Homo sapiens: one gene and its partners. The main gene of each other region encodes a partner of the protein of the gene in region 4 in a complex. Each region holds a gene or a part of one and is shown on either strand. Other genes may lie near its edges. The genes, in order: PIGU, PIGT, ULBP2 and PIGS. A codon is read from its position in the direction of its gene.

Region 1 (6,915 bases), on a different chromosome or scaffold from region 4:
AACCACTGGTTTGGGTCACATCTGTCTACAATGGCTAATCACTGTTTTTCCCAAAGACAATCCTCACCCTAAGATAAATTTTTAAGTCATCTGTTAGAATGATGTAAATAATATAACAGCTAAGTAACCTTTACTGAGCACTGGGTATGTGCTAAGCATTTTACATTGTATAACCTTGCTCAATATTCACTATGAGGTTAGTGTTACAATTACTTCCACTTTTTATGATGTAATACACTTCACTGTAAGATGATGCAACACATATATCTCCTTTTATGTAAAAGGGGATACAAAAACCCACATCTTTAAGAAGGAAGGCTGTGCAGACTAAATAAGCTCATGTGTGTTAAGCATATGGTACACTACTTGGCACACAGCAGGGGCTCAAAGGATGAGTGCCCCTCTAATTTCTTCATGATCCCCTCCCCCAAAGGAGACCCTACCCCTTTCACTGGTCCAGAAAGCTATCAGCCCCAGGGTTTATTTTTGCATTCTTTTAGAATCCCACTCCCATTTTTTTCTTTTTCTTTTTTCTTTTTTTTTGAGACAGTCTTGCTCTGTCGCCCAGGCTGGAGTGCAGTGGTGCAATCTCGGCTCACTGCAACCGCCGATCCTCGGGTCGAAGTGACTCTCCTGTCTCAGCCTCCCAAGTAGCTGGGATTACAGGTGCCCGCCACCTTGCCCAGCTAAATTTTTTGTATTTTTAGTAGAGACGGGGTTTCACCATGTTGGCCAGGCTGGTCTCGAACTCCTGACCTCAAGTGATCTGCCTGCCTCGGCCTCCCAAAGTGCTGAGATTACAGGTGTGAGCCACTGCGCCCGGCCATTTTTTTTCTTTTTTCTTTTTTTTTTTTTTTGAGGCAAGGTCTTGCTTTGTCGTACAGGCCTGAGAGCAGCGGCGTGATCTTGGCTCGCTGCAGCTTCAACCTCCCAGGCTCAAGTGATTCTCCCACCTCAGCCTTCCCAGTAGCTGAGACTACAGGCATGCGCCACCATGCCTGGGTAATTCTTATGTTTTCTGTAGAGACAGGTTTCACCATGTTGCCCAGGCTGGTCTCAAACTCCTGGGCTCAAGCAATCCTCCCGCCATGGCCTCTCAAAGTGCTGAGATTACAGGCGTGAGCCACTGCGCCTGGCCCACTCCCCCTTTTCTTTCTCTCATTAAGGTTTGTGATTTTTTTTTTTTTTTTTTGAGACGGAGTCTTGCTCTGTCGCCCAGGCTGGAGTTATGGTTTGTGATTTTACTTATGTTATTCTTTAACTATTTTATCTCTTCAACTGCTTTCCAAGTTACATAAGGGCAAAGGCAGATGGTGCCATTTTGTCACTGCAATATTCCCCAACACCCAATAGAGGGCTTGTGGGAATATAGAGATGTTTGAAAAATGTACACCTGTTCACATCATTTCTGGTTTAAAATTCTCCAATGGCATATGGATTGCACTTTGAATAAAGCCCAAATTCTCAAGCATGGCCAATAGGTCCCTACCTGATTGCCCCCCGTCTCTCCATCCACAGCTTCTTCTATTCTCTCCACTTGAGCCATACTTGTTTTCTTTCTGATCCTCAAACATACCTTGCTCTTTCCCCACTCAGTCCGTTCCTTCTGCTTGGAGGCTCTGATTAATTTCTCATCCTTTAGGTCTCAGCTCAAATATCACCTCTTTCTAGAGTCTTCCCTGATCACCTTGTCTAGTGTTACCACCCTTATTATTACACCAGCAGTTATTCTCAGTCATACACTGTTTCGTTTTCTTTCTTCTCTCTCTTTCTTTTTTTGAGACAGAGTCTGGCTCTGTCGCCCAGGCTGGAGTGCAATGGCGCTATCTTGGCTCGCTGTAGCCTCCGCCTCCCAGGTTCAAGTGATTCTCTTGCCTCAGCCTCCTGAGTAGCTGGGACTGCAGGCACAGGCCACCATGCCTGGCTAATTTTTGTAATTTTAATAGAGACGAGGTTTCACCATGTTGGGCAGGCTGGTTTCAAACTCCTGACCTCAAGTGATCCGGCTGCTTCGGCCTTCCAAAGTGCTGGGATTACAGGCGTGAGCCACTGCGTCCAGCCTGTTTCCTTTTCTTCACAAATATGAAATTTCCTTGCACATTTAATATTATTATTGCTAATATTTAAGCACTTACTATACATTAATTAATGAAGTGTGCTGCTTAATGCTTATCAATGGGCTCTCCAAACCCCAAACCCCTGATTTGTAGTGTTTGCTGATTCCTGTGGTGTAAACACTCGCATTGGGAGGGATTTTCAATCTATCAACCTGAGGAAACTGAACACCACCATTTGGGAAGAGAAAGAGATAGTATTTGCTGTACTGATACAGCGGTGGTAAATAATCTCAAAAGCACATATAAAAAAAAGTGTAGTAAAATAATTAGAAAGTGACGTGTTGAATATGTATTCCGTTGTTTTCAATATAAGTTATTTAACTGTAGGTTTATATGTCTTAATTTTCAAAAATGCCTGTGTTTAAAAGCGACTGGCAAAATTTCTAAGCCTTCCGGCCAGGCACGATGACACAAGCCTGTAATCCCAGCACTTTGGGAGGCCGAGGCAGGCAGGTGGATCGCCTGAAGTCTGGAGTTCGAGACCAGCCTGACCAACATAGAGAAACCCTGTCTCTACTAAAATTACAAAAAATTAGCCGGGCGTGATGGCGCATGCATGTAATCCCAGCTACTCGGGAGGCTGAGGCAGGAGAATCGCTTGAACCTGGGAGTCGGAGGTTGCAGTGAGCTGAGATCGCGCCATTGCACTCCAACCCGGGCAATAAGAGCGAAACTCCGTTTCCAAAACAAAAAAAAAATTTCTAAGCCTTCCTCAACTGTCCCTAGTTAGCCTATAATCAGCACATTTTTCAGCACACAAGGGTTAAGCGACTTGTTGAACTAGCTAATAAATCAGTCTACTACTCCAAAACGCATCTGTAGAACCTAACATAGTGCCTGGAAAATAGTTGGCGTTTAACAAACAACTGCCAGAATAAATTTTTTAAAAAATACACATTTAACACTCTTTAAAAACATAAAAGGTACCAGCCTGGGCAACATGGCGAAACCCCGTCTCTACTAAAAGTACAAAAACTTAGCCGGGTGTGGTGGCGCGCACCTGTGGTCCCAGCTACTCTGGAGCCCGGGAGGTCCAGGCTGCAGTGAGCTGAGATTGCGCCACTGCACTCCAGCCTGGGCGACGGCACTGAGACCCTGTCTCAAAAACAAAAAACATAAACATTTTGGGCAGGGTGCGGTGGCTCACGCCTGTAATCCCAGCATTTTGGGAAGCCGAGGCGGGCGGATCACCTGAGGTCAGGAGTTCGAGACCAACCTGGCCAACATGGTGAAACCCCATCTCTACTAAAAATACAAAAAAAAAAAAAAAAAAAAAATAGCCGCGCGTGGTGGTGGGCGCCTGTCATCCCAGCTACCCAGGAGGCGGAAGTTGCAGTGAGCCAAGATCGCGCCACTGCACTCCAGCCGGACGACAGAGCGAGACTCCGTCTCAAAAAAAATAAAAATAAAAATAAAAATAAACATTTTGGCATTGAAAACATACACGCAAGAGTGAATTTAACATCTGTTTAAAAGTCTCTCACAATCCCAGGAAGGCGACTACTTCCGCTTCTACTTTCAGCAGCGTTTCAGCCCCGCTATAGCGGCGCGGCTTCACAAAACACCTGCGATCGTAGAAGGTTTCGCCCCACCTTCTGCATACGCAGCTTGAGGCGCCCGCTTTCCGTCGCTCCGGCCCGCCTCGCCGCAAGGCTTTCTGGGAGCCGTAGTCCCCACGTCTGGCCTCTCCGGCGCCAGCGGCAGCGCGCGCCCACCCGCGGAACTACAGAGCGTGGCGCACAGCGCGCGAGGCTCCTCCGCCTCGCCTTCCCTCCCCGCCCGCGCGCCCGCCCCAGTTATCATGGCGGCTCCCTTGGTCCTGGTGCTGGTGGTGGCTGTGACAGTGCGGGCGGCCTTGTTCCGCTCCAGTCTGGCCGAGTTCATTTCCGAGCGGGTGGAGGTGGTGTCCCCACTGAGCTCTTGGAAGAGAGGTGAGGCCACTGGCTCGAGCAGACTGTCAGGCCCCACCTGCCCTCCCGCGGCCTCTGTGAATGGGAGGCGGGGGCAGTGACCGCCAGCGCGCGGTTCCTAGAGAACTAACTGACTGTCTCGTGGGGTTCTTGGAGAGGGCGGGGCCTGAGGGCGGGGCTGGTGAGGGGAGGGGGCGTGGGGACCGGGGCGTGGGGACAGTGTCGTGAGGTTTGGGCCCTGGGGGCCGGACCACCTAGTGGTGGGGATCTGAGGGGGCGTGTCCCATTCAGTGTCCTGAGCCGAGGAGTGTGGTCTGTGGGAAGGGTTGGAATAAGAGGAGGAGGTGCTTGTGGAGCGCGGCTTGCAGAGGAGTTTGGGATTTGGGGCGGGATCGCCAGGGGTGCTCCCTGGGATAAAAGGTTATGTGTGAGGGGGTCCGGGATGAGGGGACCAATTTTGCTTAAGCGAGGAGAGTGTGCGTGTGCTTTAGACGTCTCTTCTCAGTCTGGGACTTGCAGGGCAATTTTTGTTACTGTTCCTTACTAAGTTCTTCACCGAACATTGTTTTATACTAACGCCTACAGCGAGAAAGCGAAGTTGGCCTGAAGTAGCTGCACAGGCTAGTGAGGGAGACAAATCGTTATAATAATTCATGAAAAGTATACTTTATGTGTCCACCCAGTTCCTTCCTTAGTATTCTGACCCTGAATAAACTATCCCCTACCTTTCCAGTTTTCCAGAATGTGGGATTTGAGCTGACTCTTGAAGGATGTAGGGTTTTGAAAGGGAGATTAGAGAAAAGGAGAGTTCCAGGTAGCAGAAAGTAAATAGGATGAAGAAACGTTCAAGGATGTGAAATGTCCAAAGCAGGGGAGTAATGGGGTGGAAGCTAGGTTTAGGCCAGAGTTTGATGATTAAAAAAAAACAAACAACTTTTTTTTTTTTTTTTTTACTGAAGTACAGTATACATACAATGCATATTAAGTAAGTGTAGAGTTCAATGAATTTTTAAAAACTGTATTCACTCATGTAGCCAGCACCTAGTTCAAGAAACAGTATCAGCACCCCAGAAGTCCCCTTTGTGTCCTTTAAATGCTAAAGTTTTTTTGTTTTTGTTTTTGTTTTTTGTTTAGAGACAGGGTCTTTCTATGTTGCCCAGGCTGGTCTGGAACTCCTGGACTCAAGCAGTCTCACTTGGCCTCCCAAAGTGCTGGGATTTCAGGCGTGAGCCATGGCACCTGGCCAAGGCTAACGTTTTGATGTTATCCCATAGAATGTTGGTATGGGGAACGGCATAATGAATGGGTGTTTTATGAATAGAGTTAAGGTTTCTAAAAATGGTAACATATACCTTTTCTCATTTAGTCCTCACATTTATTTCTATGTGATAGATGGTGTTATTTTCCCCCTTTTACAGATGAGGGAACTGAAATTTAGAGAAGTTAATTTGCCCAGGTTTCCTAGTTGGGGAATGGTAATAAAGATAGTAATAATTCATGTCTGAGATTGTAAGAGCTTGGATTTGTTACCTCTGCGTATTATTTTTCTGTTGAAATGAATCGAAGCCATTTGGTTCCTGTTTTCTTCTGGATAACTGAAAACCTGAGGCAGTATTAGGCCCTTCTTCCTCTACACCCTACTAAGAGCATTTCTTATCTCATAATTACCTGTTTATATCCGGTTTTTCCACATTTTCTCTCTCTCTCTTTTTTTTTTTTTTTTTTTTTGAGATGGAGTTTCACTCTCATTGCCCTAGCTGGAGTGCAATGGTGCGATCTCGGCTCACCATAACCTCCGCCCCCTGGGTTCAAGCAATTCTTCTGCCTCAGCCTCCTGGGCAGCTGGGATTACAGGCATGCACCACCATGCCTGGCTAATTTTGTATTTTTAGTAGAGACAGGGGTTCTCCATGTTGGTCAGGCTGGTCTTGAACTCCCGACCTCAGGTGATCTGCCTTCCTCGGCCTCCCAAAGTGCTGGGATTACAGGTGTGAGCCGCCATGCCTGGCCTCTTTTTTTTTTTTTTTTTCTTCAAGAGACAGGGTCTCACTCTGACACTCAGGCTGGAGTGCAGTGATAATGGGTCACTGCAGCCTTGACCTCTCGGGCTCAGGACATCCTCCCTCCTCAGCCTCCCAAGTAGTTGGTAGCTGGGACTACAGGCATGTACCACCAACCCTACTTGTTATTATTATTATTTTTTTGTATTTTTTGTAGAGATGGGGTTTCACCATGTTGCTTAGGCTGGTCTCAAACTCCTGGGCTCAAGTGATCCGCCCATCTGGGTCTCTCAAAGTGCTGGGATTACAGGCATAAGCTACCACACCTGGCCTTTTCCACTATATTATGAGCTCCTTGAAGGATTCTGTTTTATTCATTCCTGAATTCTTTTATGTCTGGCATACAGTAGGTGTGTAGTTACTGTTGAATAAATGTGGAAGAGAAGAAAGCATAGGATCTGGTTACTTACAGGAGGTTACTTACAGGATGGACAGGTGAAGGATCCAAAGATGAGACAGTGTTGTTTGGTAATTAAGAGTGCAGGGTCTGGAATCTCAGAAAAGGTTTGACTCTTTCTCTAGTTCTGCAACTTATAAGCTGTATGAATTCTTTTTTTTTTTGAGACAGAATTTTGCTCTTGTTGCCCAGGCTGGAGTGCAATGGCGCGATCTCGGCTCACTGCAACCTCCGCCTCCCAGGTTCAGGCTGTTATCTCGTCTCAGCCTCTTGGGTAGCTGGGATTACAGGTGCCCGCCACCATGCCCAGCTAATTTTTGTATTTTTAGTAGAGATAAGTTTCACCATGTTGGCTAGTCTGGTCTTAAACTCCTGACCTCAGGTGAGCCGCCCGCCTTGACCTGTGAAAGTGCTGGGATTACAGGCATGAG
Region 2 (8,017 bases), on a different chromosome or scaffold from region 4:
GGACTCCCTTCTCTCCTTGGGAAAAGGCATGCAGAGATGGCACAGTATTGGGGGCCTGCACACACAGGGGACTTAGGATCTAGCCCAGGCTGAGGAAGCAGGAAACTGAGGGAAAAGGAGGCAAAGGTTTGGGCAGGAGGTAAGAGGAAGAAGGAAAGGGCTGTAGGGGTTATCTCACCATTGGCCAGACCCAGGGGTTTGAAGGAGGCAGTGGGAGTGACTGTGTTGGTGGAGTCGATGAAGTTGAGAGAGGCGCAGAAGATCCCTGAGAGGACATTACTGAGCTCCTTCCAAGATTTATCCACACTGGATAGAGACACAAATCCACTCACTGTCCTGGGGCTACCTCTGCTCCCTCTTTCAAAGTCCACAGCTGGCTGCTAAACCTATGATAGGAGGAGGCTGTATTCTTAACTATTAGACGGGCCAGTTGATGGAGCTGGAACATTGCTGCCCCCAGCCAGCCCACTTGCTGGGTCTCATCCTACTCAGCCCCTTCTTCCTCACTCTCCTCTGGACATCTCTGCATCCCCATGGGTCTCTGCTCAGGTGATTCTTCCTTCCTTGCAAGCCTTTGCTAACTTCTTTCTGCCTACCTTCATGATCCGGCTCCAGTGCTTACCTCCCCTCCACGAAGCCTTTCCTGCCCTCCTTAAGCACAGTCTCCTCTGTGCAGTCACGGTTCTGACCATCCAAGCATCTTACTAGGTCCCTCCTGGGAGATGGCTAGGTGGCAGCAGCATCGTGTCCTGACCACCTTTTCTCCCTAACTAGGCTGTAAGCAACTTGAGGACAAGGACCAGTCTGGGTCATCTATGTACTTCCCCTGACACCATGGAAAGCGCCTCATGTATCAGAGCTGAAATGAGCTCACTGATCTTCCTTGAATGTGCTGGGCTGGGCAAAACAATGCATACTACCCTGTGTATACTCTGGGAATAAAGGTAAGTCCTGATTCTACTATCATGGTGAGAAGTCTTATATCCAAAAAAGCTCACTGAACATGGGAAAAACAACTGTTCTAGGATTTCATAAAAACATCAAATTAAATTAATGTTCTTTTCTTGGAGAAATATCAAAAGAGATTTGCTCTCAGTAATAGAGAAAGCATAAAACTTAATAAGCACTAGAAAGAATTCTAAGCATTTGCTCCACATTTCAGGCAATTACGGGCTGAGGGAAGACAGTGACAGCAGAGTAGACAGGAAAGGGTAGGGGAGCCAGAGTTGAGGCAAGAGAGAAAGTCTTGGCAAGCTGGGGAGTTACTGCTTATTCCTTATTCCTTAGTGTTGTCCAGGAGCTTTTGATAATTCTATGTTCAGAGCTTTTCAACTGCTCCAATCCTTAAGCCTCAAATAAAAATGGCAAACTTGAAGCCGGAAAGCTCTACTCAAACCATAAACATGCTTCATTTGGTATGCACAACATTGACCCGCACAGCACTCAAAAAATTTTTAAATTACTTGCTGATATTTGAATTTGCCAATTTTCACATTAAATTCCAGATTTCTGGTATCTCTTGAAAAATGAGGCCAGGTGTGGTGGCTCTTGCCTGTAATCCCAACACTTTGGGAGGCTGAGGCAGGAGGATCGCTTGAACCCAGGAGTTCGAGACCAGCCTGGGCAATATAGTGAGACCTTGTTTCTACAAAAAATTTTTAGAAACATTTGACTCTGACCACATTAGGCCTCTATTCCCACATGGCAACAATCCATAGAAGCTGAGTGGCAGAGCTGTCCTCGTTAGAATGTCACACAAACTCTCTAGCCTGCCACAATTCCTGCTGCTCCTTTTTATTGCCCTAAAACTTGTTATATCATACTTGCACTATTGATTTCTTATAGTGGGATTAAGAGGAAAATGAGATATATTTCTCATTCCTGTGTTTGTCAATTTTAAAAATACCTTTATTCATTCCTTACCTGTGTGGCCCATGTAGACCTGTTTGCAACCACTGCACAGAAAGGTTCTATTCTAAACAGGATAGCCACAGCAGCCACTGGGAAATAGCGGTTTGTAGTAGGCACAGTAACTAGACCTGCCCCCTCCCAAACAAAAGCAGTTCCTCTAACACTGTGATGTAGCATCCTGTTGGCCAGTTGTAACCCACAGATATGTTATGGTTGGCTTTCGTGGTATTTATTATCATTTAAAAAATATTAATGAATGCCTTTTAAAAGGTTATCCAGTTGCCAGTTTTCTACTGCCTTACCTCCAAATAAGCATTAATTGTTTGCTATTTGCCTCTCCAGGGATATGCATGTGCTACCTCAGGTCTGAAAGTTTTAGGATTGGGAAGTTTATTCATCTGTGGTAACATTTCTTACTTCCAATGCCAGCTCTACCCCCATGGAATCGCTGCCTACTGGAAGTGCTGTCCCCAAGAGCAGTGGCAGGATGACAACACTCTCCCAGCCACATTCCCTCCATGGCCTGCAACAGGGCCCAAGGTGTGCACTCACTCAGTGACAGTGTCTTGGAACCAGACCCACAGCTCTGCACCTGATGGGGCCTGCAGGAAGGGTGGCCCCCAGTATCGGGTCCTCCAAAAGCCTTGTGTGAATGACAGGTGCAGCTCCCGTAGAGAATACTTGGAGATCAGCTGCCCCAGGGCTTTGGGAAAGAGCCTGTAATGGGACACTGGGGAAACGGGAGCAGGTGAGTGACGATCCCCACCTCGTCGGGGTCCACACCCAGGATCCCGAACTCTACCCAGGAATTAGGCCCCGCCCCCAAAGTTTGCCTTCATCCCACGGCCGGCCAGCCAGCAGGCACTACGGAAATCTTTCCCTGGTCAGATCTCGCGCCCTCACCTCCTTCCCGCTGAAGCTCCGAATCCCAGCGCGTGCGGAACTGGAATGTGGCGGCTACGTCCCCGGAAGGCAGCGGGGTGATGACAAGTTCCTCCCGCAGGCTGTCGCGTGGGGGTTCTGCAAGGCACCAGCCGCCGGGCCCCAGGAGCAACAGGACGAGCAGAGCAAGCGGCATAGCCGCCGCCATGCCTGCGGCTACTTCCGCCTACCCAGCGGCGCTCGGCCCCATGAAAAGCCGGTATCCAATAAGAAAGGCGTGTGAGAAGTGACTTCCGCTGTCGTCCCGGAAACCGGGATGCGGTTATCAGAGCGACCGCCTGCGCAGGTCGCGAAGATTCCCTCAGAGCTGGTGGGTCTAAGGGGGTACTGGGAGGACACGAGAGGGAGTAGGCAGGGCGAGTAACCAGCTTGAGGCCGCACCTAGTTCATGGCGTATTCCACCCACCAGGAAATGCTTAATAATATGAAGCTCCTTCACTGCCATTTTACCCATTTGATAGTTGAGGAAACATTGACTGAAAAAGATCAATTACTTTTGGGAAAACCATTGTGGTTTTAATTTGCATTTCCCAAAGTAAGAGGAACCTCCTGCCCCTCTTAGCTTCTAGTGTCTCCATTTGCTGCAAAACCCCCAAATAAGTGGTTCTTTTATTACGAAAATGTTCAAACAAAATTGAAAGAATGAGCACCTGTTACAATAAACCTATTTTCCACCACCTAGATTCTACTATTTACATTATACTATACTTGTACTTTACCACATATTTGTCTATACATCCATCATTCCATCTTGTGTTTTGGTGCACTTCAAAGTAAATTGCAGACATTAGTACACTTTCCTTTAAGTAGTTAAGCATGCATATAATTAACTAGAGTTCAGTATTCGATTGCATTTTGATGTAAAATTCACATACAGTGAAATGCACAAATCCAAAGTACACATTCACTGAGTTTTGACAAATGCACACACCTATGTAACCCGAACTCCTATCATGATACAGAACATTCCTAAAACCCCAGAAAATTAGCAATACCCTTTCCTAGTCAATCCCTGCTCCTCTATCACCTTCCAGAGGCAGTTAGTACCCTGATTTTTTCCCACAATAGATTAATCTGTTCCAGAACTAAATATAAATGAAATCATATAGTATGTATACTGTGTAAGGCTTTTTTTTTTCTCATGGGAAGAATGTTTTTGAGAATCATCCATGTTCTTGCATGTATCCACAATTCTTTTTATTACTGCGTAGTATTATTAATTTATCCATTCAACTCTTGATGGGCACTTTTAAAGTTTTTGGTTATTATTAACAAGGCTGCTGTCTGTGCAAGCTCCTTTGTAGACGTATATTTCTCATATCCTTTGGCCAGGTATTTAAGAGTGGAATTGCTGGGTCAGAGAGCAGGTGTATGTTTAATTTTATAAGAAACTGTCAGACCTTTCTCCAAAATGTATCATTTTATGTTTCCATAAACTATGAGTCTCCATTGTACCACATCCTGGTCAGCATTTGAAGTTTCTAATTTTTTGTACTTTTTAGTTTTGACCACTTGGGTATGTATGTAGTGTTTGCTCATTGTGGTTTTAATTTGCATTTCCCTGGTAACTAAAAATGTTAAGCATCTGTTCATGTGCTTATTTGCCATTTATTTTTTAATTTAATTTTTATTTTTTTGTGAAAGGTCTGTTAAAGTCTTCTGCACCCTCACCCCTTTGTTTACTGGCTTGTCTTTTTATTGACTTTTTCGGAGTTCCAAAGTTAAAGTCATGCTTTAGTTTTTCCACCTGCCCTATGGGAAACACATTCATGAAGGATTTCATGAACAGTCTCTTGGTGACACTCATGACCACACTTCTAGAAAGAGCCAATTTGGTGTCAGGCAGGTCTGCCAAGATATGCGCCAACCAACCAGACATTTCCAGAAAGGAAATGTCAGAAAGATGTCTTTATCTCATTATGCCTTCATTCTGCCTGCATTCAGTGTTCCTGCCCCATTAGACACGAAATATTAGGAAGGCCATGGGCTTAGATGTCAGAAAGACAGGAGTCCAAATCCCTATGCCAGCCTTTAATCCATATGAGCATGATCAACCCAAGTGTCACTTTTCTTCATTTGTATAATGAAGAAACCTACTTTCAAGGTTGTTGTTAAGATGAGAAATTATGTACATGTAGGATATGGAATGTAGCAAGTGCTTAATAGTAACACTCAACCCTGTCACCTAGGCACTAATATGTAAATGTAGATAATAGTGCCTAAGTGATAGGGTTGCTTGAGTGTTATTATTAAGAAGTACATAAACTAAGATAATAAAGATTACAATGAGTGATGGAGCTAGGACTATAGTCTACACTATCAAACCTCAAAATAATACTTTTTTAAAGGTAGCTGCCATCATTATGACTATTTTGTACTTCTCTGTTTTCCTTTTGAAATTGCCCATCTCCATCATTCAGGACCCAGCCACCTCTAGTGAAGACTTACCTTCTCCTCCTCTAGTGGTCTACAGGCTTCATGTACTTCTGCTACATCTCTCATCACATTGTTTCCATTACCTGTGTCTGTGTCTGCTCCTGGAAGAGCTCATGGTCACCTTAGTATTTCTGTTGCCTAAGCAAGGTGACTGTCACATAGTAGGTGCTCAGTAATGTGTGAATGAATGAACAAACAAGATGACATCATAGCACAGTTCTGTATTTTCCCTACTCTGCCATGCTGTTCAGTGTCAAGTTCTGTGCACTCCTGGGGTTGCTACAGTGTAAGCCTTCTAAGGAAACTTTTTCTGAGCTGTGGTGCCTCCTTTCCGAAGTGTGTCAGGATGTCCACCCTATGACAAGTCCGTGCAAATATCAGAAGCCACGCTGTAGCTTGGAGACTGAAAGCTGGGCTCCTTGACTTAGAGTTGGCTCCAGATCTTCCTCCCACCTCCAAAGGCACTGTGTGGCCTCAAAAACCAGACAGCTAGGCTCTGGGCTGCCATAAACCACGGTTTAACTTTAATGCAACACTATAATCAAATGGTGAATCTGAAGATTATCATTTTTTTAAAAAGTGACCATATTGAATATGGTGTTTTATAGTCTACTCTTTCTTTCAAGAGTTATCATAAATGTCTTTCCACTAAAAATATGTGGTGGGTAGATGATACAATCTTGGTACTATTTTGATGATTTTTTAAGCTGTATGATGAGAACCTGGGATATTTTTCTTTCTATATTTGTTGTACGTTTGAAACCCCCATAAGTTTTTTTAAAAAAACAAAGAAACAAAAAACAGTCAGCTGGAGATGATGGTTCTGAAGGCCAGCCAAGCCCCTGTGGTTCGGCAGGAGAAAAGGTTATTGTCCCAACTAGGAAGTAGTCCTGGGGTCTCAGCTGACACTAGACTTTTCCAGGCAGGGCTGGGGCTCATAGCAGCCAAACTGAAGGCTCCCCATAGGCTCAGAAACAATTCTACTTCTCTAGAGGGCTGTAAATCCCTCTCTCAAGGCAGGCTCCCCACAATCTTCGCATCATGTGCCTGGGCTACTAAGAGATTTATTGACATGTTGACGGCAACCAAGCCAGTCTAGCTTCTCATCGTTCACCATGGAAGGAAGGGGGGTGATCCTGGGAGCTGAGAAGCCCTGCACAGCAAAGCTATTGGGATCATGGGCCGCAGCCCAAGAGATGGCTCAGCCACAGTCAGACAGGAGGTAGATAGAACCTTGCTACTCTAAAGGAAGGAAGGAGAGAAGCCACAAGAGGACAGAGATTATGTCTTCTATGTGCAGCAAGGTCATAAGCAACCCAGAAAAACCCCAAAAGTTAATAGAGGACTGGGCCCTGGCCCAGCTCAGTGGATGATCTCAACTTGGACCTAGAGGCTTTTGCACAGAAGGTATTCACTCCACAAGCTTCCTAGAGACAGGGAATGGCTGGTGGACACTCCTACTTCCCTGGAGTTCCCACAGGTTTCTCACTAGTGTTAGGAAAAACACTTAGGAACAGATACTTACACTGGCCTCCTGCAGGGGTGAGAGCAGGATGGGACAATAGGAAGACTGCAGCCTTGTCACTCAACCTTGGGTGGCACAAAAAGCTTTAGGATTTTGGCTGAAGGTCACTGATCCCATGGGTGATGTTCAATGTATGAAGGGAGGTGGACTGATTTTTTTTTTTTTTTTTTGAATGTGAGAAATGAGTTGATGTTCCTTAAGACTGGGTCCTATAACCTCTTCTTTCATTCAGCATTCTCTCCCTGGGCATTCTCTCCTGTCATTCGCACCCATGGCTTCACTTACCACCTATACACTGAGAACTGATCGTTTTCTTTTTCCAGCTCAATCCTCTTATCTAAATTCCACATGCATGGGTGCAAGGGCCTACTCAACATATCCTCTTGGATGTCTCAAAGACATCTCAAACTCAACATGTCCCAAACCAAATTTATGGCCTTCTTCTCAAACCTGGTCCTTTCTGAAACTCCCCATCTGGGTGACTAGCCCTCTGTTCCAAAAAGGATGTAAGGAGCCAGAATGGCTGGAGTACCCCCTCACTTGACATGCCAAGGAGTTCACGTCTATCTGGAGACACTGATTTGAGAGACTCTGCTGGAAGACTATAGGATGGTTGGCCAGGTGCAGTGGCTCACGCCTGTAATTCCAGCACTTCGGGAGGCCAAGGTGGGTGGATCACCTGAGGTCAGGAGTTCGAGACTAGCTTGACCAATATGGTGAAATCCCGTCTCTACTAAAAATACAAAAATTAGCCTGGCATGGTGGTGTGCGCCTGTAGTCCCAGCTACTCGGGAGGCTGAGATGTGAGAATTGCTTGAACCTGGGAGGCGGAGGTTGCAGTGTGCCGAGATCGTGCCATTGCACTCCAGCCTGGGCGAAAGAGTGTGACTTCATCTTGGGGGAAAAAAAAAGAACTTCCAAAAATTTCTTCCTAAATGGGAATAGACTGGCTGTGCCCTCTTTGCCCATCCCCCATTTCCTCTCCTGCTTTCTGCCAGTCTCAAGGTCATGATGGCTGGGGCTTTGACAGCCACCTTAGATGTGAGATATTGCTAAGAATGCAAACCATGTGCAAAAGAGCAAAAAAGGAGCCCAGTGCTGAGTAACGATGGAGCTTTCATGTAGACCTGTACTTTTTAACTTCTATATGAGGAAATAACTTTATATCTTAAGTCATGATCTTTTACTAGCTGTCAAACTGAA
Region 3 (7,640 bases), on a different chromosome or scaffold from region 4:
GGTGCCAGGCCTCTCTAGCAAGAGAGGAGGAAGGGCCTGGATGGCAGAGGATCTTCAGCAGTAGCCCACGTGGACTGCGGGAGGTGGGAGAGGGTGTGGGTCCACCCCTGTGGATGCTGGTGCTGGTTGAACAGAGTGAGGATGGAACCCCGTTGGATAAAGAAGAGTTAATTATCATGGCCACAGGATTTAACATGTTGGCAAAGCCCCTGGTGATGGCATGCATCTGCTATGAGGAGGCCTTCCTGAAACCTTGGACAAAGAGATGGTCCACACAGCAAGAAATGGAAAATCTGAAAGTCTAAGGCAGGTAGTGGAGGGAGAGATCACAGGCTCAGAGAAGTGCCCATGCCAGAGGGGTCTAAGTGTGAAAATCCAGAACAATGTCCATCCACTGTGCTTATGGGAAACCTGGAGGACTCCTGTTTACCCAGCATATAAAGAAGGCCCCATGAGAAGGCACCAGAATGGAATGAAGCTTAGGGATGCCTATTGCTGAAGGCCAGGGTTGGGGGTAGGAGATGCTGTTCCTGAAATCTGCTCCCAGAGTAATGGGATGAACAATTCTGAAATTCCAAATTCCAGGTGGAGGCTGTCAACTGTCAGGAGCAAGGAGGGTGCAATGATGGAAATGATTAGAGAAGTCACAATGCCAGCTGGGGACCTCAGTTATACAAAGTTATGCCCATGGCTCATAGAACAAAGGGGTCCAAGGTCCAAAAGAGATGCAAACCCACCCCAGATACTGCTGGATTTAAATAATTACAAGAAACAGAGATAAACCAAATCAGGAGGCTGAAAGTAGCCAGTCCATCAAGAACGAGGCTGCTTTGCCTAATTTGCAGAATGAAGCCACTTCTCAGACCCTGAACCCATGACTAGAAGAAGACACCAGTTTCTAGTGAGGAAGGACCCTTTAACCCTGCAGCCAGGACAGTGAGTCCTTGTGGCCTTCTCCAAAGATATTTATGGCCAGTAGAGTTTGCTGTGAAGGGCAATTTTGTAAACATGTAAAGGTGTGCAGGGAATATATTCTCCATTGTAACTACTCAACTCTGCTGTTGAAGTTCAAAAGCAGCCATAGACAATCCATGCATGATGAGCGAGGCTGGACCTACCTTAAGTGCCCAATGACCCAAGACCCCCTAAGACCCTAGAGGTACATGTGGTCACAATGTCTAATTGGAGAATCACAACAGAGATTCCATGTGAATATTCAGAGACAAGGCAATGCCACTCACAGCAAGGAAATCGCAACATTAAGCAGTGGCTCCTGTAGAGTACTGCACCTTGGCAGAGATGGGGCCTTTTGCCATGCATATAAAGAAGGCCCATGACAAGGCACCAGAATGGAATGAAGCTTAGGGATGCCTATTGCTGAAGGCCTCAGAGCTGCCCATTACTGGTGGGCTCCTCACCCTCTAGGTCATTAGGAAGTTAGGCCCAGCAGTGAGAAGACGCAGGTGGTTCTTCTGGGATGGGCAGGAGCAGGGCCACCGGGAACCAAGAAGCTGCACAAGCAGTTGGACCCGATCCCCAGGACACCACGTGGCTGCACCCCCTCACCCTCAGCTCACACCTGAGGCTTCAGGGAGGGTACCTGATGGTCCCCGTGGATGCCACTCAGCACAAAGGAGGGGAGAATAAGCCCCCAACTATGGGACCCCCACTCCCATCACATCCACACCACCCAGAAGCCACAGACAAGGTAGGACCACCTTCTACTCTCCAACTGACATCAGAGACATCACTTGGAGATGACACCATAGGGGATGGGGCACTATTCACTGGGACATTGTAATCCCCTGATCTGGGATCAGCAACCTAGGACAGGGTCCAAATCTGGTCCCCCCTATTTGAAGGTTGCCATTGCCTGCTGTTGCTCTACAAAGGGACAGGACTGGACACTGAGACGGAGAACCCACGGCCTGCAAAGATCACAGGGCATCCTTCCTCCCTTTCTAGAAAGAGTTTGCTGACCCCTGTCTACACAGTGACTATTCTCTATGACGCTGACACCCCCGTAGGAAGAACAGGCGGTCTGGGCCCCAAGGGCAGAAGTGGGTGCCTCTACTCACCAGAGTTCCCAGGGTCATCCTGGAGGAAATGGTGCTTCCCATCCCCCCTGCACAGGTTCTGAGGGGAGCTTGGGGTGTGTTTGCTGGGGTGTGTCCTCAGGCAAGAGGCAGAAGGTGCGACGTGGTGTAGGAGGTGGTGAGGTCCCCTTCATGGATGGGGAGACCTCTGGGGTGACCAGCTGGGCTGAGGTGGGCAGTAAGAGGACGTGACCTGGGTGGTGGCAGTGGATGGTGAGGGGAGGGGTGGCGGTTGTCTGCTGAGCCCCTGGGTGCAGGTGAGTGTCTACAGGAAAGTGCAGGGAAAAATTCAAGGGCACGCAGCCCTGGGGGCGCTGGAGGGTTTGTGTGGTGGAGAGCGGGTGAGAGCAGAGCAGGCCTGTGGCTGGTGGGGGTGTCTGTGATCGCGTCCCTGTGGAATCCCGCTTCACCCCTGTCCTGTCCCCAGCTCCGGTTCCGGGGGCTCTGGTTTTTCCTTCCCGAGGGCGGGTGGGACTGCCAGGCTGCACCAGGGATCCCCGCCCCACCTCGCTCTCTGCAGCCCTCCGGCCCCTCCACCCTCCTGCCAGCCTCCTTTCCACCCCGCTCCTTTTCGCCTCTTCCCGGGCAAGAAGCAGCCTCGGGGACTGCACCCAGCAGGAAGGAGCCGCCGACCGGAACTGAACGGGGGCGCAGTTAGGGGAGATCTCCCCCGTCCTTCTAGAAGCCTCCCCTCCTCTGAAACCCGCGGCAGTTCACAGCCCTCCAGGCTTGGTCCCCGCCCGGCTTAGGCTCCATCCACGAACTCACCGGCTCGCCCAGCCCGGGACCAGCCGGACAGCAGGAGCAGAAGCGGGAGGCACAGAAGGATCTTGGTAGCGGCGGCTGCTGCCATTAAGGACCCAGAGCGCTAGGGATGAGAGACTTGATGGAAGGAGAGCCTGGAAGATGAATCACCTCAAGGTTTTAAAGCCTCCCTATGTACGGGCGCGCCCCCCGTTTCCCGCTGTCATAGCGTCAAGCGGGTCATAGCGTCACGCGGCTAGAAATATGATTGGCTGCCCTGACGGTGTCCCTCCCCTTCCCGGGCGTCCCTCCCCTTTGTCCCAACCCCCTTCGGGTTGGTGTCTGGGTGTCCGCCCGGCTCCTGCCAAGACACGGTTCCTTCCACGACAGACTCATTTAATCATCACAACATTTTTTTATTGAAGGTGAAGAAACTTGCAGAGGAATATTCAGCGGCGGCGGCGTCTCCCTGTCCCCGCCTGGGTCCGCGACGCTCTCCCTCCCTCCGCCTGCGCCGCGAGGTCCCTGGCTTATCATGCTCTGGGCGCAGCCACGGGCCTGATCGCGTCCCCTCCACTACTGCGCCAGTTCCCAGTGGACGTGATTACAGTCCGGGCTAGGTTTTATTATTTATTTATTTATTTATTTATTTATTTAGAGACGGAGTTTCGCTCTTGTTGCCCAGGCTGGAGTGCAGTGGCGTGATCTCGGCTCACCGCAATCGCCGCTTCCCGGGTTCAAGGGATTCTCTGGCCTCAGCTTCCGGAGTAGCTGGGATTACAGACGCCCTCCACCACGCCCGGCGAATTGTTTGTATTTTTGGTAGAGATGGGGTTTCATCTTGTTGGCCAGGCTGGTCTCAAACTCATGACCTTAGGTGATCCACCCGTCTCGGCCTCCCAAAGTGCTGGGATTACAGGCGTTAGCCACCGCGCCTGGCCCGGGCTAGGTTTTATTACAGGAGCAGCAGGCAGGGTTCCAGAGGTTTAAAACAACATATTGTGCACTAAACAACTGGTCAAGATGGTAAATTTTATCTTCTATGTTTTTACCAAAATTAAACAGCTTTAAAAATATATATTAAAAAATTATGTCTTGTTCCTGCTCTGCCCAATGCAGATTGGCCAAAAGAGTCTACTTATTAAAATCGAGGACAACATGGAGGACCCCGTTCCTAAAATCTCAACCTGTGACACACTTGCTGATTTAGAAAGCTCCTCAGAGAGATGGGCCCTGAGCTCCCAGTTCAGCAGCCTCCCTCGCCCAGGTCCACGGATGGCACAGGGGGCTCAGCAGAGCAGGTTCAAGTGAAAGTTCCTGGTGGTTCCCCACTGTTAGTGCATTCTGCTGGCCTCTTCGCCCTGGGCAAAGGGCCAGCCACCCTTCAAAGCTAGGCACAAATGCCCGGTCCCATGCGTGTCCCTCATGTTCCCACAATACAGAACACCCTCCTGCTCGCTGAGACCTGGGTCCACAGTGAGTGCATCCAGATCTCCCTGTGTGACAACTGCTCACACAATTTAATTTGTGTGTGTAAGCATGTGTGACAGACTCTTACTCTGTCACCAGTCTGGAGTGCAGTGGCACGATCATAATTCACTGAATCCTCAACCTCCTGGGCTCAAGGCTTACTCCCTACTCAATATTGGAGAGTGTGGGGCAAGATAGTCTGAGCCACTAGCTGAGCCGTCCTCTTGTTACTGTTTCCTATGCCCTGGCAGATGCCTCAGTAGTATTCACTCCTGGATTTACCAAGCCCTGTGTTAGACTGGTCCAGGGGCTGAGTGGGTCTTGGCTGTGAGTGCAACTGGGGTGAGTTATTCTGCCAGGATTGGGAACTGTGTTACTCAGGAAACTTTTCTCATCACCCACCCCAATCCTGTCCCAGATGGGAGGAGCAGTGAGTGCTGTGTCCAGGCTCCCTGTCTTCCCAGTGCTCCCAGCATCACATGAGCTCCTCCCCAGATGGTGTGGGGTCTGGGCTCTCCATGTTCACCATGCTCCCACCATTGGCTCCCCATTTCACTGCTCTCCCAGGATCATCCCAGCCCCTCCAGGGTCACTGCCTGACCAGGTGGGGGTTGGGTGAAGAGGCAGAGGTCAGGGCAAGACCCCTGGTCCATTCTGACTTTAGGTTCCTCTCTGAAACGCGACTGCATTCCACATCCTGTTCCTCTGGCAACCTCAGTTGGGATCACCTGTAGGGCAGTGTAGAATCCTGGTGGGTGATGACCAATTCCTGCCACCGTGGCTTTTCAAGTATATCGATTTTTCCTAAAATGGATAAAGAGACTGGCAATAAGTTATGGAAATACTGTTTTCCTTACTAACAGTAGATACGTGTTTATGTATCAATTCTGGTTTTTAAAACAAATATAAACCCATAGGCACTCTGCTGAACACAGATTCTATCTCAAAATAACACACTTTGAAGATCTTGCAATACCTGCACATACAGATTTTTTCCTTTTTATCTCTGCACATTACATAGAATGACTGCATCACAACAAAAGTAACCAGTGTCTGTGTCTGAAGATCCAGACGGTCTCCAGTGACTTTTAGAGAAGCGAAATGCTGCAGAAACTGTGCTTGCATGAATCACAATTTCATTGTGTAGAATAGATTTCCAGACACAGAATTGCTGTGCGAAGTAATGCACCTTTAAAGCATCTCATGTCATAGGATGGCAATGCTGGCGACACTCTTGTCTGTGATTGTGATGACCCAGCTTGGGCAGAGGATGGTGAAACATCCACCGTAGAGGGAGGGGAAACTGGTACAGGCTTCCTGAAGGACAGGGTGACAGGGTTCATCAAGGGTCAAAAATATCCGCGTCTGAATTGAGAATATGTATTTATATTCGTTTGAAACGGCATAAAGACTCCCTGGAAAGATGAGAAGAATCAAATAAACTTTCCTCCCTGGCGTGTGGCCAATGAGAGTGGACGCAGGCAGGGGCGGGGGAGCCTTTCACACATGACTTTTCAGGGTTTTGATTCTGAAACAGGTGAAAATGTGGAGGTGAAGTAGTAAGTAAGAGTGGGGCCGAGAGTCCCAGGGACGGTCACACGGTGGGCCCGCCTGATCTGTTGGGGGCCACTAGGGTCCGGGGAGGGGAACCCGGGCAGCTGCGTGCGGGGCTGCTGCAGTGACGAGGCACCGGTTCTAGATATTTACCCAACGGTGTTGTCACAAAGGGGATATTATAGGTGATTTCTGATTTCAACCGCAGATGACTTTCGGAGACAGTTCGCATATGCGGTTTCAGTTTTCACCCTGCTGCGTCCTCTCCGGGTTCTGCGCGCTCCTCCCAGGACGCCCGCTTCGCCCGAGCTCCGGACCCGGGTCCTGCCCGGTTGAGACCGCCGAGTGGGTGCCACGCTGCCCGCCGATGCTCCCGGGCCTCCGGGTCCACAGCCTCCGGACAAAACGGCCTTTCGAAGACCTGGGAGGACTCGCCGGTCGCGACAAGGAACCGTGGCAGGAGACAGGAAATGCGGGGCCTGGTGGGGTGAAGAGCACGAGGTTCCTCCTTCATCCTCGCGGCGACTTTGCCACCGGCTCAGTGTGGAGACGTCACAGTCCCGCTCGGATCCCTGGGGATCCGACAGTGTGGCCCCCACGAGGACCCCCATCCTCCTTGCCCTGGGGCTGCTGCGGGAGGGCGCCCATGGCGCACTAGGTCCTGAGTGCCCAGGATCCAACAGGGGCTTCCCGTTGTCGCCTCCCCGACCCCGCCGCTCGCGGTCCAGGGCTCCTGGTTTCTCCACTGGGCTGGGGGCCCCGAGCATGGACGTCTTGAGGCAGAGAAAACCTTGGGATGGTTGGAAATGAAGGACGGGAGGGAGAACCAGAGAAAGGGAGAGGAAGGAAGCAGGTAGGGCCAGAGAACAAAGAGAAACCTCCGCCAGGAAAATGGGAAGAGGATGACACAGGAACAGCCCTACACTCCACCAACTCTCAGTCTCCTGCTCTCTGCCTTGTAAGGAACGCAGGCCCCACCCCCTCCAGCCTCACAGTGTTTGGGGTCACCCATTCCAGCGGGGTGAGGCGTCCCCTTGTGGGTGCTGTTGGCATTTCCCTGAGGTCTGTGGACACTGAGCACCTTTTCCTGGGCTCACTGCCATTTGCATTCTTCTTCCGATGCCAGTGGGCAACCGGTGGTCCCCAAACTCTGATGAGACCTCGACCCCAGCCGGTGTCGGGCTCTTGACACCGCCTGGGGAAATGAATTCTAGGACCAGTAGGAAAATAGAGAAAGGACGGAGATTTTTTTGTAAAAGGGAAAGTACACACTCATGTAAAGGGAATGCAGGGGAACTCAAGAGAGAGGCAGGTGCAAGGGGGTTTAGGGCTGCCACCTTTCTGGGTTTCTTTAACAAGGGGTGGAATATTCATGAAAATTCCTAAAAGAAGGTGGAGACTGCTCAGAACTGTGGTGCCACCCATTTTTACACCAAATATTGGTGTTCTCTGAATTGCCAAGACGCTGGTGTGTGTGCGTTTAGTATGTCAATTAGTGTATAATAGGGTCCTAGGTGAAACCGAGGCCAAACCCAGGGCCATGTTGGGTCCACTCATTCTTAGCCAGCCTGGTCCATACCCTGTCTTTTAGGGTCTTATCAGCCCAGAGCCTCTGCAGATATTTCAACAGATTCCTTTTGCTAGTCACCTGAAACTGCTGCCTAAAGTTTTTTTCTTCTTTTGTGACCACACTGTATTATACCTGTCTCACTTTGGAGAAACATCTTTTTGAATTCTTTGCATATATTTAAATTGGGTTATTTTGCTTTATAATGT
Region 4 (6,928 bases):
GCTATTACTATTTCCGTCTAACAGATGAGGAAACCAAGGTTTAGAGAAGTTAACAACCTTACTCAAATTTACACAAATAAGTGGCAGAATAAGGCTTGAATTCCAGCTCTCTGATCCCAGATTCTATACTCTTGGTCACCCTTTATACGTGTTGCCTATACTATACGTTTACAGTATACCCATATTACTGAACACTGTGTTATCAAATATGAAGAAATCCATGATAAACTGAAAACAATCAAATTTCAAACTAACTTGTGAGGGATAGTCCAATTTTTGTTTAGAAAACAAGAAGTTTGGCTGGGCATGGTGGCTCACGCCTGTAATCCCAGCACTTTGGGAGGCCGAGGCTGGTGGATCACTGGAGGTCAGGAGTTTGAGACCAGCCTAGCCAACATGGTGAAACCCCGTATCTACTAAAAATGCAAAAAATTAGCTGGGCGTGGTGGCAGGCGCCTGTAATCCCAGCTACTTCAGAGGCTGAGCCAGAAGAATCGTTTGAACCCAGGAGGCAGAGGTTGCAGTGAGCCAAAATCGTGCCATTGCGCTCCAGCCTGGGCAACAAGAGCGAAACTCCATCTCAAAAAAAAAAAAAAAAAAGAAAGAAAACCAGAAGTTTGTGTGTGTACAGAGGCTGAACCATACGAAATATCATTTTTTTAAAAAAATGTTTTAACCAGCCGGGTGCGGTGGCTCACACTTGTAATCCCAGCACTTTGGGAGGCTGATCACTTGAGCCCAGGAGCTCGAGACCAGCCTGGGCAACATGGCGAAACCCTATCTCTACTAAAAATACCAAAACAAATCAGCTGGGTGTGATGGTGTGCGGCTGTAGTCCCAGCTATTAAGGCAGGTGGGCTGAGATGGGAGGATCGCTTGAGCCCAATAGGTCAAGGCTGCAGTGGGCCCTGATCGTGCCACCATACTCCAGCCTGGGCAACAAAGAGAGACCCTTTCTCAAAAAAAAAAAAAAAAAAGAAAAGAAAAGTTTTCACCAAGGCTAAAGAACTAAAAAAGTAAATGGCACACAGATGCCTCATGCTCTAGACTCAGCCCAAATCTCCAGTCATTCCCAGTCTTTCACTACACATTCCAGTAAGGCAAAACTGCTCATAGGTCCCCCAATATGCTGATTCACCCCGCCACACTTTCACACAGGAGTATAGTTTGTTGGTTAAAAGCTTGAACACTGGAATCAGTCAGGCCTGGATTTAAATCCCAGTTCCATCTCTTACTAGCTGTGTGACCTTGCACAAGTTAAATTCTCTAAGGCTCAGTTTCTTCATTTATAAAATGGGGATCATATCATTAGAAAGGATTAAATGAGGCAACACATATAAAATGCTTCACCTAGTTTCTGGCACACAGCGAGCAACAACTATCAGCTATCCTTATACTGTCTCATGCTATTAACTTTGCCTGAAATTCTCTCCCTCCTTTTCCCACTTAACCTGAATTCCTACACATCCTTTAAAAATCCGACTTAAGAATTACATCTCTCAAAACTTTCTCTGCCTTTCTTTCCTCCCAGATGGTTAATACTCTTTACTAAGTGCAATCTCTGTTTCTTGTATACTTCTACTGTAATTTATTTTATCTTTCTCCCCTACCTATGAACATCTTGAAACCATTATCAATTTCTTATTCATTCCTAAATTCTTGGTACCTAAAAAAAAGTACCCCAGTAAAGTGTTTAATGTTAAACTGAATAGGGGCTGGGCGCGGTGGCTCACGCCTGTAATCCCAACACTTTGGGAGGCTGAGGCATGCGGATCACCTGAAGTCAGGAGTTCGAGAGCAGCATGGCCAACATGGCATAACCCCGTCTCTACTAAAAATACAAAAATTAGCTGGGCGTAGTGTCGCGCGCCTGTAATCCCAGCTACTCGGGTGGCTGGTGCAGAAGAATCGCTTGAACCCAGGAGGCAGAGGTTGCAGTGAGCCAAGATGGCGCCACTGCACTCCAGCCTGGGCGACAGAGCGAAGCTCCGTCTCAAAATATAATAAATAAATAAACAAACAAACTAAATAGGGCCTATATGCAAATCCAATTTAATTTCAAACTCTGTGTTCTTTCCACTATATCCCACCTCTTCCCCTATACCCTGATGGGCATCAACTGCTTCCGATTAGGTAGCCTGTCTTACGAGTAAAATTGCTATTTAGTGACTGTGAATTTGAAAGTAGTTTTTTTCTGACCAAACACACTGTTCATTCAGAGGTCTTTCAACAGTAAGTTTTTAACTGCGTTTATGGTACACCCCCGCTCCTCCCACCCAACTCAGCTCTGAACTGAGCTCAGAGGCGAAAAGCAGCCCTGATCCCCAGTAACTCACATTTCAGAGGAATCTCTCTTTCATGCACAACGGTGAAGGGCAGCTTCTCCTGGTCGTCCAGGGGCACTGACTCCCGCGTAAACACGACAGTGACAGGCACCATGAGGCGGAGCTACAGGAAGGAGCATCAGGGCCGTCACTGAGTCTCCACCTTGCCGGGGGGGCTGTCCCCCGACCCTCCCGCACAGCAGTCTCACCTGAAGGGCATTCAGGCCACTGATCTGGGAGTAAGGCAACGAGGCCCGGTAGGTCTCCGTGGTCTTCCACCAGAGCGGTAGCCCCAGCACGATGGCCACCGCAGCGAAGAAGAGGGCGGCGCGCTTGCCCCGGGCCACCTCTGAGGGCATGGGGAACCGACTGAGGCGCTGGAAACGGGCTAGGGTACCGGCCCCATCCCCGACGCGGAGAAGCCCCAACCACCGGCCTCCAGGGGCCCGCGTTCATTGGGATCTCCGTGCGAAGGGACCCGGCCCAAGCCTGAAGGGAATCTCGTCTGAAGAGACCCCCGAGCCCCCCGTCCGCGGGACCTCTCGCACACCACAATCCCCACCCCTGCTATTCCTCCCTTGCCATCAGCTAGCTGCAGGCCCCCCACCCGAAGCCCACCGCACCTAGGTGTGTAGCCGCAGCCCCGGCGGCCGCCATGCTAGCTTCCGGCTGCTCCGGCCACCGTGGGGGCAGAGCTTCGTGAGCCTCACCCAATCGGAATCTCTGCAACGAGGGGGCAGGACCGCGGCGGTGATCGGGGCCAATCGCGAGCGCTACTCCAGACCCGCAGACGGGAGCAAGCGGGCGAGGGGTGGGAGGGCTCCGCTGGGAGCTTCGCTGGGGATCTGAAAGGAAGTCACCCGGGCGCGGAGGGACAGCCTAGGGGCCGTGCGGGTTTCGGCGCTGCTGGAACGAAGTTCCCCGCTTCCCTGTAGAACACACTTCTAGCCCCGCAATCAAGAGCGCAACCTCTGCAGTCCTTAAATACTAGCTGGGCAACTACAGGCAGCTCCGAGGCTCATCTGAAAATGGAGATATTTACATAAATGAGGCCGTTCTTGTAAGGAGCCTGGCACACGGAAAGCCCTCAACGTCAACTGTCACGGTCTTATTATCCTTATCGTAGAACTCCTCTTAGGGTGCCCTCTCCTCAAAGCCTCAAACACGGAGGTAGCAAGCTAGTATGTTTTAGCACAATTGGCTCTCTCGCTATTTTAAAATACGTTTTAATTCATTTCCAACTTGGAAAACTCAGAATACTTCACTTAAAAATCTTGAAAAGTCATGAGCCCAGACTCTAGATGCTGATCACTGCGGTTCAAATCCTGGCTTCATCACTTATTAGGTGAGTGATCGTGAGAAGATCGTTCTGTGCCTATCTGTGCCTGTTTTCTCTATTAAAATAGGGATGATAGTAATAGTACCTACTTTATAGAGTTGTATGAAATGTGTCAGTACATATAAAGTGATTAGAACAGGGTTGGTGCTATGTGCAAGCTATTTTTGTTATTATAAAGTCAGGCCACACAGGGTGGAGCATTTGTAGCCTCCCCAGTTGACACAGAACACACGCAGCTTGTTATCTCTTCTTTTTATCTGCTTAGACCCAGGTTCTCAGCCTACCTCACAACCCAGCCCAGTGGTTAAAGTTCAGCATCAGGCCTCACCAGAGCTGTCCTTACCCAGACCCTCCAATTGGCTCCCTTTGTGCCCACTTCTACCCCAAATGAAAATGGGCCATAGCCCTTGGCAACCTCCTAGATGCCCTGCTCAGCCCTGGCAGCCCGCAGAGCCTTGGTTTTCCTCTTTGGGCGGGAGTCCAGGTGCTCGCTTGCCCTTACTGGTGTGGCTCACCCTAGTGGAAGGTACCAGGTCCCAGCTGGGCTTAACACTGCGAGATGGGAGAGACTCCCACCCACTCTTATCCCAGCCTGTCTTGCTGCCTCCCTGCTTTGAGCCTTGCACAAATCTGCCTTCAGGAGTTGCCAGTTTGGCCTCACTCCATACTTCTGTAGCTGCAGCCCAGTGCCACTGATGTGGCAGTCCCTAGAAGACTTGCAGTCTTCCTCATTGCCCCACTCCAGACTTGGACATCAAGAGAGCAAGAGCCTGAGCTGGGGATGGTGACTGCATGTGCCCTTCCTCCATAACTTGAAGCCCAGTAAGACTCAAATCCCACCCTCTCCACCTCCAGAGTCAGAGGGCCCAGAGATAGAATTAGCAGAGATCAGAAACTGGGAGGTGGGAATTTGATGTGTAAAACAGACAGGCAAAGTAGAATGTTTTGCTACCATTTATTTGCTGTATGGTATGTACTCAAGGCATGAGTCAGGGCTTCTGTACTACCCTCTGATCCCAGGAGACAGGGCAGGCAAGAAGGAGAGCCCAGGGAGAAGCTACCTCATCATGGGAAAATTGTGGGAGCTGGAAGAGGTAGGGGGAGACCCAGCCATCCTGTTCTGACTTCTAGCAATTTCTTCTGCCCTCAGTCATGAGGGGCTCCCTATCCTCCCATCCTATGGTCCCAGGTGCAGCAATGAGAGAGGGGAAGGGAAGAGAGAAAGGAAGACAAGTTGGTGCCAGGTGAAGGCATCTCTGCTCTGCATAGCTATTTGGCCCTGGCCATGACTACAAGCAAAAGTGGGTGCAGATGGCTGGGCCAAGGGCTGTGGTATGGAGTGGATACTCAGTAGGCATGGTTGGCAATGTAGAGTGACTGTGCTGCTGCTCCACCATCTTCTCCACTGCCTTCATACTTGCCCTGGGCTGCAAGCCCATTCACCTGCAAAAGGGAGCGTGGAGTAAGCAGGCTGAGCCAGCCCACAGGTGCCAAGCCCTGCCCAGGCTATAGCCTCTGGGTGCTGCCCCCACCCACCACCACCTGTAGCTCCCAACCTCAGCCCGCTTGATGAACTCCTCAGTGGCAGCCCCAGCATTGTCCCGTTGCCCTCGCCAGGCATTGAGTGCAGAGGCTTGCAGGGCACGCCCATAGGAGAAGGTAAGCGCCCAGGGTCGGGGAAGGGGGCAGCGGTTGATGGCATTGAGGTTGAATGATGCCTCTTCTTCGCTCTGACCCCCAGACAGGAAGGTCACTCCTAGTGTGGAGGAGAGAAGACAAACTGACTGGTCACTCCCAATTTTTCCAGGATAGGGAACCCCTGAAGGCCACAAGAAGGACCTGAAGATGGGCCTTAGGGATAGGAGCAGGTTAGGGAGCTGGGTAGTACCTGGGACAGCTGGGGGCACAGTGCGACGCAGGGCAGTGACAGTTGCCATGGCAATCTCCTCTGGGGTATACTTGATGGGACAGGCATGGCCCGGGGTCACCATGTTGGGCTTGAGCAGGGTCCCCTCCAGGTATACATGATGGTCACTCAGGGCCTTGTACACAGCAGCCAAGACCTGGGTGGGGATTAGAGGAGGTTTACTAAGGGTCTGGGCCCCCACTGGTTACTGCTCGATGCTCCCTATGTAGGGGTAGATGGGCACAGACTGTGAGGGCTCAGTACAGGCTCAGATCACAGGCCTGTGCCGGGATGAAGTGAAAAAGTGCTAGGGGAAAGTGTGCCTGGATCTAAGCTGGGGGTTCTGGGGAACAGACACTCCTGCCGAGCTGTCCCTGCAGTATGTTTGTGTGCCCAGGTGTGGACTCACCTTCTCTGTAACATACTGACAACGTTTGAGGTCGTGGTCTCCATCAGGCAATATTTCAGGTTCCACAATAGGCACAATGCCATTCTGCAGGCAAGAGCAGAGATGCTTGGGAGGGGCAGTAGGGGAGATGAAGAAAGCCTTGTGACTCTCTCCCCACCAGGCATACAGGGCACCTAGCTCACCACCCTCCCAACACACACACCTGCTGGCAGATACTGGCATAACGGGCCAGCACGTTGGCGTTCTCCAGAATGGCAAGTGCAGAGGGTGTACGCTCACTGATTTTCAGCACACAGCGCCACTTGGCAAAGTCAGCACCATCCTTCTTGTATTGGGCACAGCGTTCTGAGAGCCCATCCAGCCCTGCAAGCACAGTGCCAACCTCATTACTCTGCCCCTCTTTTACCAGCATCAACTATCTAACACCTCTTTGGTCCTCAAGCCCACCCATCCTATACCTTGAGTGGTGGTTTCTCCATCAGTCCCAGCTAGAGGCACCACACCCTTGTCAACCTGTAGAGGAAGTACAAGCAGAGGGTTGAATCCAGGCAGGATTCTCCTTGCTACCCCTCCTACACAAGCTTATTTTCACACCCAGCTTCCATTCAGAGCAGGGCCAGGGGCTGCACCTTGATGCCCACGACGATGCCCTTATCCTGGATGGTTCGGACGAAGGGAACACCATTATCATCTTTCTGGTAGAGGGTCTCATGGAAGAAAATGACGCCTCCAATGCACTTTTTCACACGGTCATCAGCACTGAACAGGACCTGGCGGTACAGCCGGCGGTTCTCCTCTGTGTTTTCCACCCCAATTTGGCTCAGCCGCTTGGCCATGCTGCCTAGGGGCAAACAAAGAGAGGCAGTGAGAACATCCCCAGGGTCCCCTAGCCACCTGTACCCTACCTGGCTACAGATGTCCACTTACCTACAGACTCATCCGCAGCCAGA

What was found.
Region 1: the proteins of PIGS (region 4) and PIGU are in contact, whole or in part, in a cryo-EM structure (PDB 8IMX), measured with the Homo sapiens proteins. Residues at the interface, in NP_149975.1 of Homo sapiens: Ala4 (codon at 2,972), Gly5 (codon at 2,969), Ala8 (codon at 2,960), Thr9 (codon at 2,957), Glu12 (codon at 2,948), Arg15 (codon at 2,665), Arg18 (codon at 2,656), Ala19 (codon at 2,653), Phe22 (codon at 2,644), Phe23 (codon at 2,641), Val26 (codon at 2,632), Leu30 (codon at 2,620), Leu34 (codon at 2,608), Trp35 (codon at 2,605), Thr38 (codon at 2,596), Thr39 (codon at 2,593), Leu510, Leu511, Phe513, Ile521, Tyr522, Leu525, Phe526; in NP_536724.1 of Homo sapiens: Gln118, Phe282, Glu283, His284, Phe285, Leu287, Phe288, Phe289, Cys291, Val292, Phe293, Ile295, Phe299, Tyr300, Ile302, Pro303, Ile306, Lys307, Lys309, Glu310, Thr417, His418.
Region 2: the proteins of PIGS (region 4) and PIGT are in contact, whole or in part, in a cryo-EM structure (PDB 8IMY), measured with the Homo sapiens proteins. Residues at the interface, in NP_149975.1 of Homo sapiens: Thr9 (codon at 2,957), Glu12 (codon at 2,948), Val13 (codon at 2,671), Gly16 (codon at 2,662), Ala19 (codon at 2,653), Ala20 (codon at 2,650), Phe23 (codon at 2,641), Thr230, Pro238, Lys239, Tyr244, Ile247, Glu248, Val251, Gln256, Val270, Asp271, Ser272, Gln273, Ile274, Tyr276, Tyr277, Met279, Ser309, Arg310, Ser313, Ser314, Ala315, Ala316, Phe513; in NP_057021.2 of Homo sapiens: Pro26 (codon at 2,926), Arg27 (codon at 2,923), Val63 (codon at 2,815), Ser64 (codon at 2,639), His65 (codon at 2,636), Tyr66 (codon at 2,633), Arg67 (codon at 2,630), Lys71 (codon at 2,618), Gln75 (codon at 2,606), Lys79 (codon at 2,594), Tyr80 (codon at 2,591), Val133 (codon at 275), Gly136 (codon at 266), Lys191, Leu193, Pro194, Cys195, Ser196, Lys198, Ala199, Glu270, Pro271, Pro273, Leu274, Tyr526, Ile529, Cys530, Cys533, Val536, Ala537.
Region 3: the proteins of PIGS (region 4) and ULBP2 are in contact, whole or in part, in a cryo-EM structure (PDB 8IMY), measured with the Homo sapiens proteins. Residues at the interface, in NP_149975.1 of Homo sapiens: Pro514, Gln517, Phe519, Ala520, Ile523, Pro524, Leu527, Pro528, Val531, Pro532, Leu535; in NP_079493.1 of Homo sapiens: Arg223, Ala224, Thr225, Ile230, Leu234, Ile237, Leu238, Ile242.

Annotation. Positions count from the first base shown.
Region 1 is NC_000020.11:34,674,089-34,681,003, reverse strand, and holds the start of PIGU (GPI-anchor transamidase component PIGU), read left to right. Parts: upstream 1-3,911; 5' UTR 3,912-3,918; coding exon 3,919-4,048; intron 4,049-6,915. UniProt on the Homo sapiens protein: Component of the glycosylphosphatidylinositol-anchor (GPI-anchor) transamidase (GPI-T) complex that catalyzes the formation of the linkage between a proprotein and a GPI-anchor and participates in GPI anchored protein biosynthesis.
Region 2 is NC_000020.11:45,411,141-45,419,157, reverse strand, and holds the start of PIGT (GPI-anchor transamidase component PIGT isoform 1 precursor), read right to left. Parts: upstream 3,018-8,017; 5' UTR 3,002-3,017; coding exon 2,815-3,001; exon of another isoform or gene 2,642-2,814; coding exon 2,464-2,641; exon of another isoform or gene 2,341-2,463; intron 945-2,340; exon of another isoform or gene 775-944; intron 307-774; coding exon 179-306; intron 1-178. UniProt on the Homo sapiens protein: Component of the glycosylphosphatidylinositol-anchor (GPI-anchor) transamidase (GPI-T) complex that catalyzes the formation of the linkage between a proprotein and a GPI-anchor and participates in GPI anchored protein biosynthesis.
Region 3 is NC_000006.12:149,937,382-149,945,021, reverse strand, and holds the start of ULBP2 (UL16-binding protein 2 preproprotein), read right to left. Parts: upstream 3,009-7,640; 5' UTR 2,950-3,008; coding exon 2,865-2,949; intron 1-2,864. UniProt on the Homo sapiens protein: Binds and activates the KLRK1/NKG2D receptor, mediating natural killer cell cytotoxicity.
Region 4 is NC_000017.11:28,568,516-28,575,443, forward strand, and holds the start of PIGS (GPI-anchor transamidase component PIGS), read right to left. Parts: upstream 3,010-6,928; 5' UTR 2,982-3,009; coding exon 2,948-2,981; intron 2,674-2,947; coding exon 2,534-2,673; intron 2,449-2,533; coding exon 2,337-2,448; intron 1-2,336. Other genes in the region: ALDOC (fructose-bisphosphate aldolase C), read right to left, coding at 5,011-5,106, 5,220-5,419, 5,552-5,726, 5,979-6,062, 6,181-6,341, 6,437-6,491, 6,608-6,819, 6,906-6,928. UniProt on the Homo sapiens protein: Component of the glycosylphosphatidylinositol-anchor (GPI-anchor) transamidase (GPI-T) complex that catalyzes the formation of the linkage between a proprotein and a GPI-anchor and participates in GPI anchored protein biosynthesis.